4 linked regions of the Homo sapiens genome follow. The protein of the gene in region 2 purifies or fractionates together with the protein of the main gene of each other region. This does not show direct contact. Each region holds a gene or a part of one and is shown on either strand. Other genes may lie near its edges.

The links. The genes of interacting proteins can lie anywhere in the genome.
Region 1: the proteins of YTHDC2 (region 2) and LIN28B purify together in Homo sapiens (co-immunoprecipitation; one large-scale study listed by IntAct). This does not show direct contact.
Region 3: the proteins of YTHDC2 (region 2) and SRFBP1 purify together in Homo sapiens (co-immunoprecipitation; one large-scale study listed by IntAct). This does not show direct contact.
Region 4: the proteins of YTHDC2 (region 2) and RNF10 purify together in Homo sapiens (co-immunoprecipitation; one large-scale study listed by IntAct). This does not show direct contact.

Annotation. Positions count from the first base shown.
Region 1 is NC_000006.12:105,023,107-105,026,606, reverse strand, and holds part of LIN28B (protein lin-28 homolog B), read right to left. Parts: intron 310-3,500; coding exon 125-309; intron 1-124. UniProt on the Homo sapiens protein: Suppressor of microRNA (miRNA) biogenesis, including that of let-7 and possibly of miR107, miR-143 and miR-200c.
Region 2 is NC_000005.10:113,519,910-113,524,132, reverse strand, and holds part of YTHDC2 (3'-5' RNA helicase YTHDC2), read right to left. Parts: intron 1-4,223. UniProt on the Homo sapiens protein: 3'-5' RNA helicase that plays a key role in the male and female germline by promoting transition from mitotic to meiotic divisions in stem cells.
Region 3 is NC_000005.10:122,017,475-122,020,974, reverse strand, and holds part of SRFBP1 (serum response factor-binding protein 1), read right to left. Parts: intron 1,716-3,500; coding exon 1,634-1,715; intron 888-1,633; coding exon 173-887; intron 1-172. UniProt on the Homo sapiens protein: May be involved in regulating transcriptional activation of cardiac genes during the aging process. May play a role in biosynthesis and/or processing of SLC2A4 in adipose cells.
Region 4 is NC_000012.12:120,572,356-120,575,221, forward strand, and holds part of RNF10 (E3 ubiquitin-protein ligase RNF10), read left to right. Parts: intron 1-2,866. UniProt on the Homo sapiens protein: E3 ubiquitin-protein ligase that catalyzes monoubiquitination of 40S ribosomal proteins RPS2/us5 and RPS3/us3 in response to ribosome stalling.

The DNA of each region.
Region 1 (3,500 bases), on a different chromosome or scaffold from region 2:
ATATATTCTACATGATGGTGGTTTCCTTTGGCTAGACAATATGAAATGCAGTAAGATGAAAACATTTTCAGAAATCCTTTCCAAACACAATAAACTGATAAATTAACAAAGTAAAAATGATTACCTATCTCCCTTTGGTTTTCTTTTCTGTAGTGTCTTCCCTTTGGGTCTTCTTTCACTTCCTAAACAGGGGCTCCCACCAGGTCCTGTTACCCGTATTGACTCAAGGCCTTTGGAAGATTTTTTAAATGTGAATTCCACTGGTTCTCCTTCTTTTAGGCTTCTAAATCCTTCCATGAATAGTTTGCTCTGTAAAGAGCAGAAGAGGGTGGGGGAGAAAAAGAGAGATTAAAATTATCATTGCTTTATAAATTATCTCTATAATTTTAAAAAAGAAAGATACTCTGTCATGCATTACAAAAGTATAAAGTCTTAAGTTCAGTGAAACATATACCATTTTAAAGTTTCTTTTTGCAATACTGGCAGTGGGAGAAAAAAATTTTTAAGGCAATTTGGCAATACTTAGAAAAATTAAAATGTGCATATTCTTTGTCCCAGCAATTCCACAATTAATAATTCTACTACAGACATACACAAAGGCTCAAAAAGATACCACAGCACTGATTGGTAAAAAATAATTACATCTATCTGAACATCTATCAATGGGAAACTGATTAAATAAATTATTAATATAATAGCACCATATAACATTATTAAGCCATTAAGAGAAGTTTTATTAGTTCTACATGTTCTAATGTAGAAAGATAAGCATGTCATATTGTTGAGTTAAAAAAAAAAAGAGTTAAAGAACTGTGTCTACCATAATGCTATCTATGTAAAATTTTAATTTTGTTTATTTATTTTTGATATGGGACTCACTATGTTGCCCAAGCTGGTCTTGAACTTCTGGGATTTTCTAGCCTCAGCCTTCTGAGTAGCTGAGATAACAGGCACATGCAGAGTCCAGCTAAAGTTTTTAAAAGATATATGTTTATTATATAGAGATGTGGTCTGAAACAACAGACACTAAAGAGTCGTTTTCTCCAGTCCCGTTCTAGAAAGGTAGCAAAGTTTTCTGGTATATACATTACTGCGTCGTTTGAGCTTTTTATAATTTGAAAGGAAATCAGATTTCATATTTGAAAGATAGCTGATTTTTTGTAAAAATAACAATGTTCACCAATTACAAAATTGTTGATTTTGGTTTCAAATATTATTTGGCTCTTTCAATCCTCTTTTCATCAAAGTCAATGTGCCAGTTCAAAATATACTAAAAATAATTCAATCAGTAGTTTTATTTATTTTTTCAAACCCCTCTGTGTACATTTTACAGATCTAATTTAGAATATCATGTAGTTTTTAAAGACTCTCCTGAATTGGTGGGGCAACAGAAATAAAACATGATGGTAGAAGTCCTTAGTTCAAGTCCAGTTCTTTAAATAAACTGCTATATTGCTTTGAATAAGCCATTTGCTGTCGTTTCTGTTCATTTGTAAATTCAAAAGATTTGAGTTCTGAGTAACAACAAGACCACGAGAAAAAGGTTTTGTGGTCAAGTAAGTTTGTAAAACACTGTATGTTGTTTCTCTGTGAGAGACTCATATTAGCATATTAAAGTCTCAGGAATGTTCTCACCTCCCCAACTCCCACAAAACTAAAAATCTTTTTTAACTCAGCAGTTTCCTGACCTAATTGATCCCAGAGCCCCTTCTTTAAGTACAGATGACGAACATACTTAGAGAAATATTGGACCAGAAAATCTTCAATTCTCCAAGTCCATGACTCTAAAGGCAGCTAAATAATTACATGTAGCCAAATTATTACATAGAATAAATAAAAACAAAACTTCAAAAATTCATTGCAAAAGGAGACCATTCATTGTGAAAGCAAGACAGCCCATGAAAACAGGGTTATTAACCTGCTTCTAGTGCAGGTCACCTGGCATAGTGAAATCTTTCATGTGGAAGTCTGCAATTTGGCAGCACCTTTTCTGCTCTCTGATGAAATGTTGGGGGAAAAAATCACAACTGCCTACATTCTTTAAAATAATAAAGTATTATTATTAAAGCTATTTTAACATTTCTAAAGCATCTTCTCATTTTTTCCTAAGCTTTCTCTTCACTAATTATAAATAGTTATTTTGCTTTCATTTCCTTTCTCCCTCTCCACTCAAGAAGGTACAGATTATTTCTCTTTTACAGATGAAATGGAGCATAGTTCAGCTACTGAAATTATGAGAACAAAGAAACAGCATTTTTTATTAGAGCTATCATATGTTCATATGTTTTGTTTTGGCAACAAAAACTCTATCACTGGGCTAAGCGCGGTAGCTCACACCTGTAATCCCAGCACTTTGGGAGGCCAAGGCGGGCAGATCACCTGAGGTCAGGAGTTCAAGACCAGCCTGGCCAACGTGGCAAAACCCCGTCTCTACTAAAAAAATACAAAAAATTAGCCAGGTGTGGTGGCGCTCGCCTGTAATCCCAGCTACTTGGGAGGCTGAGGCAGAAGAATCAGTTGAACCTGGGAGGCGGAGGTTGCAGTGAGCGGAGATCGAGATCGTGTCACTGCACTCCAGCCTGGGCAATGGAGTGGAAACCCTGTCTCAAAAAAAAACAACCAAACAAACAAACAAAACTCTATCACTTAACTCCTCATAGCTCTTAAGTGCACTTTTGTAGGAGTTGGTGCATAGTTCCTAGTGAACTCAATTAAGCTGGTATACTTTCACTTAATTTAATTTTCCATTATTATGATTTTTGATAGGTATCTTATAAGTGAACTGCTTTTCCAAATCTAAAGTAAAATTCCAGCTCTTACAAACTAATAAATTCTAGCTGTTGTTCATGATATTCTGAAAGAATACTTTAAAAAGTTCTATCATATATGTCCCCCTCCCCAAATTAGTCCATAAGGCAATTTAGTTTCATAATACTTGGCAAAAAAATATATATATATTATATATTTTATATATATAAAATATATAATATATATTATATATTTTATATATATAATATATATAATATATATTATATATATTATATATATATATAGGTTATATATTATATATATTATATAATATAATTATATATATTATATAATATAATTATATATATTATATATAATATAATTATATATATTATATATAATATAATTATATATATTATATATAATATAATTATATATATTATATATAATATAATTATATATATTATATATAATATAATTATATATATTATATATAATATAATTATATATATTATATATAATATAATTATATATATTATATATAATATAATTATATATAAATATATATATTATTTATATATATAATAATAAATAATAATTATATATAAATAATATATAATATAATATATATTATATATATATATATATCCATAAGAAACTATAATGGCTTTGCAAGAAAAAGACAAGAATTCACACAGAATACTCTGTCTTTGCTATTAGACCAAAATAGCTGCTACATAGGTGGAAAAGAT
Region 2 (4,223 bases):
GTTGTGGCACTACAGGTAAACTACTTAATGGCTCTGAGCCCAACACAATAGTAATATATATCTCAAAGGATTATTCATATGATTAAGATAATACATGCAAAGTGCAGTATCTGTTGCAGAGTAGACTCTAAATAAATGAAAACTATTATTATAGTCAGAAACAATACTATTTCTTAAATTTTAAGTTACCCAAAATATTTCATAAAATGTTTTGCCATTTGTTAATGTCACTATTATAGAAATAATCAACAGAGCCATAAATACAATGAAAAATTTATAATTTACAAAGCAAATTTTATAATTTTTCTAATTTTCATTAGATGTAAATTTTATCAACAGTATCTTCACCATAAGAGTGATATCAAACTGGGGATTAACCTATACAGTTTTAGCATATAAGTTTTCTAAGTGAGGCTTCCAATTTATCAAGGTTTTTGATTTCTGGAAACTCCTTATTGAATATTTCAATGAATTTTAAGCTTTCTAGGTTGTTATTTACTCCTTAAAAAGTACTTGGTGGTACTTAAAATGATGCTATAAAGATGAAATAAAATTTAACCTGATCTAGAAGTTTTACTTATTTCCATGATAAATTCAAATTATTGAATTCCATAAATGTTCTCTATAATAGGTTCTTTTCCCACGGACCTTTCTGAAACTAAAGGACAGTCATTATAGACTCAATAATTCATTCCCCTTCTGTGATGTTCATTTCATAAAATTTTAACTACAAAAGGCAGGAAGTGAGCTGAACTGAGCACCAGAGCAAATGGTAGGAGGCTAGTATTCAGCTAGTAATAAACTTTCAAGCAGTTACATGATCAACGGCAAATCATTTTACTTCTCTGACACTGTACAATTGTTAATTTTAAAAACTTCATATTTTTAAGAACTCAAAGATGCTTTAATTTTCTTAAAAATCATCTCAGAAAGGTTTTGCTATATTTCACCTTTAATTGTATTTTATTCATTCACTCAATCATTTATCATCTATTAACTAAACACTGACTTTATGCCAGGCACTGTGGTAGAAGCCAGGAATACAAAATGGAGTAAAATATACCCTTTCTCAACAAGCTCACAACTGAAATAATAAGTTAGATTGAAACCTTCCTAACATAGGTTACCTAATATAGCATTTAGGTATTAAAAAAAACCTCATAATAAGCAGGTGGGACTACTTAGCCATTACCATTTAAAATTTACTGAATTCAGTTTGAGCACATATGGTAGAATGGAAAGATAATATCAACTTGATCATTTTTATGTTTTAGTAAAGGAGTCTACTTGTGCTTTTACTGATTATTCCTACCACAGTCAGCACCACAGTGACACTGATATATCATAAAAGGATTAATGAAATTTTTGGTAAAATATTCACCTCATTGTTGTGAGGATGGAAACATTAAATACAGTAGAAATTTGTCATACTACGTAAACTAACAAATTGAGAACTCCTTATTATGCTTTCATTCCAAGATAACCGAAACTATGGTTTGATGATAAACACAGGAATCTTTTATACAAAGCAAAATTAACTAAAAACTAGCTGCACATGTGGAAAAGATGCTAGCTAAGTGAAATTCACAAGAGTTTTTTAAATAAAAGGTAAACCCCATATGCAATTTTGAAATATAAAAGTAAATGTAATAAAATTACAGTTGAGAGCATCATAACACCTAACTTTCGAAAAATAAAAGTAACCGATGCATTTTGGCATTTCAATGGCTTCTTCCTTTGAAAGAAAAATGATGCTATAAGTAATCAAATTTGACACAATGTTAACATTAATCAATTTACTAATTTAAAAGGATGTTACTAAACATTTAAATCAAATACAAACATATGCTTCAATATTCCCTACTTGTAAATCTAAGAACAGTTTAAAAGATCAGCTGAAGAGCCCAAATCTCAAATGACTGCTTAAAAAGCTCACAGACACCAGGAGTCTCTTAAAAACAAACAACAACCACCACCAAAAAAAAAAAAAACAAAAAACAAAAAAAACAGGCATTCATTTGATGCCTAATAAGTACTTAATTTTATATTCCCTTAATTTATATTTCCATTAGGCAGACAGATGCAAAGATCTAGCTCCAAACCACTTTCTCCCCAATACTGTAATACAGAATTGGAAATGTAGTAAAGTTTGCATCATACTAATTTGTACTTTTTTATGATTACCTAAAAACTAATAAACCAACCAGTTCACTTCATGTTGTCGCCAAACTGAGCACAGCTGCTTTCAAGGTATGGTCACTATGCCTATAGTAAATTTATTTTTCTGGGTTTTTCTTTTTTTTTTTTTTTTTGAGACAGAGTCTTGCTTTTTGCTTTCAAGGCATGGTCACTATGCCTACAGTAAATTTATTTTTCTGGGTTTTTTTTCTTTTTTTTTTTTTGAGACAGAGTCTTGCTTTGCTACCCAGGCTGGAGTGCAGTGGCACGATCTCGGCTCACTGCAACCTCCGCCTCCTGGGTTCAAGCAGTTCTCCTGTCTCAGTCTCCCCAGTAGCTGGGACTACAGCCGCCCGCCACCATGCATGGCTAATTTTTGTATTTTTAGGAGAGATGGGGTTTCACCATATTAGTCAGGCTGGTCTGGAACTCCTGACCTCAGGTGATCCACCCACCTCGGCCTCCCAAAGTGCTGGGATTACCAGCATGAGCCACTGCGCCCAGCCTATTTTTCTGGTCTTAATGAACTATAAGCTAAATTGAAGATGAGATCTATCCAATATTTCTGTTCTAACTCCTCAGAGCACCTACTACACTGCTATGAACTTGATGTGAACATCAAAAAATAATTAGTTAAGTATTAACTGTGTTCAAATCCTGGCTCTGCCACTTGCTAGCTGTGTGATCTCAGGAAAATTACTTAACATCTCTAGGCTTTAATTGCCTCATCTGTTATATAGGTGCCAGGTGTTAAAATAGACTCTGCCTTATAAAACTTGTTATGATCCATGGTAGACTGGATAAATAAAATGTGGTACTACATATACACCATGGAATACTATGCAGCCATACAAAAGAATGAGACCATGTCCTTTGCAGGAACACAGATGGAGCTGAAGGCCATTATCCTTAGCAAACTAACCCAAGAACAGAAATCCAAATACTGCATGCTCACATTTGTAAGTAGGAGCTAAATGATGAAAACACATGGACACATAGAGGTGAACAACAGGCACTGGGGTCTATCAGAGGGTAAAGGATGGGAGGAGGGAGAGGATTAAGAAAAATAATGGGTACTAGGATTAATCCTGGGTGATGAAATAATCTGTACAACAAACCCCCTTGACTCATGCTTACCTATGTAACAAACCTGCACATGTACCTCTGAACTCAAAAGTTGAAAAATAAACTATATCCACACTAGTACACAAATGGAGGCATGCTCTGTCATACATCCTGCTGCATTTAATGTATAAGAAAGAACCATTGGTCCTTGTTGCTCACTTCTGTGAACAAAAAGTGCACTAAGGCCATGGGAGTCATCCACTTTCAGGTCAAGGTCTATCCTTTCCCTTGTGGTAAATACCAGGCCAGAGATGAATCAGCACCAAACCAAAGGCCCTCATCCAAATATGAGAATGCTGACTCCTTCTCATTTAAAGAAAAAAAAAAAAAAGAGATTCTTTTATTTTCAATAATCCTTTATTCTTGGGAAAACCCAGTTTAAATGTGACCTAATTTTTTATTTTATTTAGCATATTACATCTATGATCATAAGTAAGATAAACCCATAATTTTCATTTCTAATATCTTCTTTATCTGAGTTAGGTAGCGAAGTTATACTAGTTTCATAAAAAACAGGAGGTGTCCCTCTCTTTGATTCTCCAGGAAAAACTGAAGTAAAAATAAAATTATGTTTATTGTGCAGCCATAAAAAAAGAGTAAGTTCATGTCCTTTGCGGGGACATCGATGAAGCTGGAAACCATCATCCTCAGCAAACTAACACAGGAACAGAAAACCAAACACTACATGTTCTCACTCATAACTGGCAGTTGAAAAATGAGAACACATGGACATAGCGGGGGAACATCACACACAGGGGCCTGTCAGGGATTAGGGGGAAAGGAAAGGAAGAGCATTAGGACTAATATCTAATGCATGCAGGGCTTAAAACCTAGCTGATGAGTTGATAGGTGCAGCAAACCACCAGGGCACATGTATACCTATGTAACAAACCTGCACATTCAGCACATGTATCCCAGAA
Region 3 (3,500 bases), 8.5 Mb from region 2:
CATATGTGTATCTGTACCTAATACCCCACTACAACCTTGGAGAGGGCCATGTCTAAAAACAGGATGGGTTGTACAAACTAGAATTATAGTCTCTTCATGTATGGACAAGTAGACATTTATAGCTTTTTAAAAAAGAACTAATGATTATTTCAGAATAGAAAAAGAATCTTACCTTCTAGAGCTTTTAGATCCAGATAAAGAGTGGAAAAACACTGATTCTAACTTTCTGGTTTCTGTACTTGGCTTGATTTTGTCATTTCTTGTATCCCCATGAGTTTCACCTGTATCTTCTTTAAGAAACACTTTTTCTAGTGGTTTTTGTTCCTTAACTGAAGAATGACAACTACTTTCCTTCTTTCGTGTCCGTCTGACTTTCCCAATGAAGAAGTCGTCACCGCTATCACTATCTTCAGACATGGAAGACTGCTTGTAAAACCTTTCTTCTGTGCTATCATCAAAATATTCCTTCTCCTCTTCACAAAATTCTTCTCCGCCATCACTGTTACCAGAGAGTGAGCTATCAGATCCTTTGTTTTTTTTGGTTTGACTTAGAGTTTTCAGTTTTGGGTCAGCAGGTGTCTTCTGGGACTCAAGGGAAACTACAGAATCCTTTTCTGAAGGCTTTGATGGAGAATTTGCAATAGTCACTGCTTTAGGTCCATGTTCCATCTTTGCTATTTTTTCCTTTGAATTATGTATTGGTTTCTTCGCCAATATTTTGGTTTCTTTGACTTTTTGCTCACTGATGACAGTTGCTTCACGCTGTAAATTACTTCCATTATCATTTGAATACAAAGTATTCTCAGAATGATTGTCCTCTGAAGCATTCTTTGATGACTCAACTTCAGCAACATTTTGTCTTGCTTCTTTAAAGGCTTGTACAGCAGCTGCAAGAGAAACAGTGCATCACTCATTTTAGCACTGAAACATATAAAACATGACTGTTTTAGGACAGTATTTTAAAAAATTATTTGAAAAGATTTAAGAGGGCAGTTGGAATTGATATTAAATACATATACTCGGTCTGAATTCACAAAGAAATCTTTCGACTTCTTAAAAACCAAACATAAGATATGCTCAGACGTATTCATTTTAAATTGTGAAAATGAAAAGAAAATGTTTTCTTCATGTCTTGGAGTTATGAAGAACAGTAAAAACATCACAGAATACAAATAAAAGGGAATGGCAACTTTAATTTATATAATAATAATGCATTATTATAAACTGTGCTTTCAGACATAAAATTCAGTATCATGTGACAAAAAAATTTCATTTTATAGATATATTTTATAATAAACATATATAAAATTATGTTCCTAAGTGGCGAAACCAAAACTAATGAGTTATGTCAATATTTTAAAAAAACTATTCAACTTTATCTTGTATATATTATATATAAAAAGATATATATTACGTATTATACGTTCACATATTAGAATTTACTAAACAATACAGATTTGGTTTTTCTTCAGAGATCACACTTTCTGTATTTTCAGACACCTTCCACACTGGTAAATATTTGAAAGAAACTTATATTTATAATAGAACCTCAAGAGTTAAAATAAGTGAATAGCCATTATCCAAAGTCTACAAATACATTAAGTACATGGCTTAAAAGTCATTTAATTCATACCTTTTAGCACATCTATCTTTTTCTTCAGAAGAGGATGTACTGCTAGTCTGGCAATTGCTCTTTCAGTTGCAGTAGAATCTGGCTGCAAATTTAAAAATATAATAAACGTATGGGAATGAAATAAAAATGACACTATTGAAAGTGAATAAAATAAAATCTATCATAGTCTTTAAAATTAGAGTTGGAGAATAGAACTAGTTAATATTCTCCTTAGATAAGATATCTGTATAATCAATCCATGCTAAAGACAAAGATCATCCTGACAAAAATATTACTGCCTTTGAACAACTAAAATTATCACTTAATCATTAATAAATATTCTTTGGATACGATACTTAATATTCTCAGAATTGTGATAAGCACCATGTGTAACATCAAAAAAAGAACATAGTTTTTACTATCAAAGAGCTTGAACAATCTAATTAAGAAGACTAAATTAATATCAAAGAATCAAATAACATATTAGTGCTAAACTGGGTGAGACTACTGTAATACTTGAAGTTCCATTTAACAGAGACCTAGAAATTATCTAACGCTCTATATTTCTATTTTAAATGTCTACTATCACTGACACGTTCTCAGGGCCTAGACTGAATGGGAACATTATATACAGTATTCAATATATTTATAAATTTGGAAAAATCATAATGCCGGCTAATGACTTGAAATGCCGTATGAAGGCTGACAACATCTAAATTTCGACCTCCAGCTCCAACCTGAGCTCTAAGCTGATACATCAAACCACCTAACCTGACATCTATTTGACATTGTCAAAACAGAATTCTTTGATTTTTCCTCACAAATCTGCTTCTCCTGTAGCTTTTCCATCTTATTGTATGTAATTTCCATTGTTCTGGTTGCTCAGGCCTAAAACTCTAAGGATTCTTTCCCACTATTTGTCTTTCCCTCAAAACTCACAATACACCCTGTGGTTCCAAATGTAAAATATATCCAGAACCAGTCGCTTCTCACCATTTCTATTCTTACTACCTTTGACTAAATCACCAACACCTCTCACCTGGACCAACATAATTAAACTTATGCCTGGTCACTCTCCTTTGCAACTTGCTCTCTCAACAGTCAATTTTCCACACAACAGCCACGGTGATTTTTAAAAATGTAATCAAATCATGCTATTTCCATATCTGTTCTTCTTTAAGCTTTATTGCTTTCTGATGCTTAGCCCATACCATTGCAATCTCTTCTTTACCTGGAATACTCTACTCCCAAATATATACACGGCTGATCATCTCACTGTATTCAGGTCTCTGCTTAAATGTCATCTCAACTAGCACAACACTTCCCATCACTATTTACTTCACATCACTTACCACTGCATGGCAGTGTAGATGTTTTCATATCTGCAAAGCAGAGACTTTGTTTGCCTCATTGCTGTAGATTCAGTGCCTAGAATAGTGACTGGTAATAATAGTAGGCACCCAATACACATTTAATAAAGCAAGTGAATAAATTTCACTAGTGTGTGAAAGTAAAACAACCAGTTTCAAATGTCTTTATCCTAAATTTACCCTTCATTGTGAACAGTCAAATATAAGACATTTCCAACCCAGTATTATAAATGTACGAATACCAAAATAAAAACAAGATGATGGCAGTATGCAAGCTATTCTGTTTGTAGGATTTATGTGAGTAATGTCACTCAAAGAATAATCTATTTAAATTACACCTGGTGCAAATCCTGTGCCAGGACCATCTGCTATTTAATTACCTTGTGTACTAGGTTGAATCGCGTCCCCTCAAAATTCACATCCACCTGGAAACTCAGAATGTGAACTTATTTGGAAACAAAGTCTTTGCAGATTAAATTATGTGGAATCACAGTGGATCAGGGTGGTCTTAAGCCCAG
Region 4 (2,866 bases), on a different chromosome or scaffold from region 2:
ATGCCCGGCCATTGACAGTTCTTTAGAGCAGTTGATACGGATCTTTCTTATGTAATTACAGCAGTTTGTACTGAGAAATAAGCAAGAATTGAGCTTTGGTAAGGAGGGTTCCGAAGTCAAGGAACATGAAATAATTGTGGAGGTGAGGTGAGAAGAGAGGGGGATCCTGAAAATTAACTGCTGGACTTAGAGATGATTAACAAGTGGCTCCCAGGAGTTATGCCAAATACTTGTTTTGTTTTGTTTTGTTTTGTTTTGAGTTGAAGTCTTGCTCCTGTCCCCAAGGCTGGAGTGCAATGGCGTGATCTCGGCTCACTGCAACCACCGCCTCCCGGGTTCAAGCAATTCTCCTGCCTCAGCCTCCCGGGTAGCTGGGGTTGGGTTACAGGCGCCTACCACCATGCCCGGCTAATTTTTGTATTTTTAGTAGAGACAGGGTTTTACCATGTTGGCCAGGCTGGTCTAGAACTCTTGACCTCAGGCGATCCACCTGCCTCAGCCTCCCAAAGTGCTGGGATTACAGACATGAACCACTGCGCCTGGCCTTTTTTTTTTTTTTTTTTTTTAAACTAGGCTTTATTGCTATTGCTTTTTTCCTTTGAACTTTATTTTGAAATACAGAGTTGAAAGAATAGTATTATGAACACTTAAACTTTTGACCTAGATTCACTAATTGTTACTATTTTGCTGTTATATATTTGCTTTCTCTTTTTTCTGTGTTGAAAAGAAGTTGCAGATATCCTGAATGATACTTTACCGCTAAGTACTTAGGAGATACATGCCAAAGAAAGTGGGATATTCGCCTATAGAACCACAGTGATCACATTAGAGAAATTCCACTGCCACAGTAATATCTAATATGGTGCATATTTATATCTCCACATTTGTCTCAGCGTCCTTCATTTTCAACTCAGGGCAGAATCCTGTTACTCCCTGCATTTAGTTGTCAAGTCTCTTTAGTCTCCTTTGATCTATAACCGTTCCTTTGCCCATATCCCCTTTTTTTTCCCTTCCATGGCCAGTTGTTTTATAGAATATCCTACAGTTTGGACTTGTTTGATTTCTCATGAATGGATTCAGGTTACATTTAAACATTTTGGTAAGAATAAGACATAGGTGACATTTTGATTACCTTTTAAGAGTAAAACAATTCACATGTCAAACTATTTGGATACTGTCTCAGTCCATTTGTGTGGGTATAAAAGATTACCCGACGCCGAGTCATTTATCAAAAAAAAAAAAAAAGTTTATTTGGCTCATGACTCTGCTGGCTGGAGGACTGGGCATCTGGTGAGTGCCTCAGGCTGCTTCCACTCATGGTACACGAAGTGAAGGGGTCCCTGCTTGTGAAGAGATCACATGGCTAAAGAGGAAGCAAGGAGGGGAGGAGGTGCCAGGCCGTTTTAAACAACCGTGTTCCTGTGCCCAGTTTCAAAATAGCCTTCAGCCAAGCTATTGAAGCAGCCTTTGTGAAACTGGACACACCAGCTACTTCAGATCCCTTCTGTGGTAAGGGCAGAGGCTGGAGTGCCCAGGGTTGTCAAACACACATGTACTGCCATTCCCACTGGGATCCAGTGGCAGACATCACTCATCAGCTCTTTCAGGAATGAATGCGAGAATAGGTCTCCCATCCCCCAGGGAGGGCATTAATCTGTTCATGAGGGGTCCACCCCCATGACCCATACATCTCCCATTAGGTCCCCACTTCCAGCATTGGGGATCAGATTTTAACATGAGGCTTGGGAGGGTCAAATGTCTAAACCGTAGGAGACCCAAACTCCTAGAGACAAAGGGAGAAGTTCACCAAAGTGGAACATAATGAAGAAAGGTTATTTAATGAAATCGGCATCTGCCAACACAAACTCATCTTGAGTAATAGGCATTCCTCACTTTGGAATATATGATTTAAGGACAAGGCATCCCTGCTTGAACCCCATGGGGTTTGTCTCTTGATATTTTTCCAGGAATAAAATGTTCTCTGCCTTTTAAGTGGCATATTTGCAGTTGGGGCTCATAGTGGCCTTCAGCAGTTACAAAGCTGGCCTTGGCCAAGTGGAATGAAAATTCCTCAGGGGCATGAGGATTGTTCTGATTTTATTGTCCTTGCAGGAATTTTACTGGCCTGTGGTTGGATCTGAAAGTTAATGATGAAGGAGCTATTGGAAAAGCAGACTAAAAGGTAGTGAGGGGCTGTTGAAGCGGTGTCAGGAGAGAGTTTAGTTAGTTTTCATGGCTTTAGGTAACTGAAGTTTAGTAGCCATGTGGTTTAAAACTGGAGGGTACTTGGCTGGGCACGGTGTCTCATGCCTGTAATCCCAGCACTTTGGGAGGCCAAGGCGGGCAGATCACCTGAGGTCAGGAGTTCGAGACCAGCCTGACCAACATGGAGAAACCCCGTCTTTACTAAAAATACAAAAATTAGCCGGGCGTGGTGGTGCATGCCTATAATCCCAGCTACTCAGGAGGATGAGGCAGGAGAATCACTTGAAGCTGGGAGGCAGAGGTTGCGGTAAGCCAAGATTTGCGCCATTGCACTCCAGCCTGGGCAACAAGAGCGAAACTCCATCTCGAACAAAACAAAAAAAACTGGAGGGTACTAGGCCGGGCACAGTGGCTCACGCCTATAATCCCAGCACTTTGGGAGGCCAAGGTGAGGGATTAACTGAGGTCAAGAGTTCAGGACCAGCCTGGCCAACATGGTGAAACCCCGTCTCTACTAAAAAAAAAAAAATCCAAAAATTAGCCAGGCGGGTGCCTGTAATCCCAGCTACTTGGGAGGCTGAGACAGAATTGCTTGAACCTGGGAGGCACAGGTCACAGTGAGCCAATATTGTGCCATTGCACGCCAGCCTGGGCAACAAGA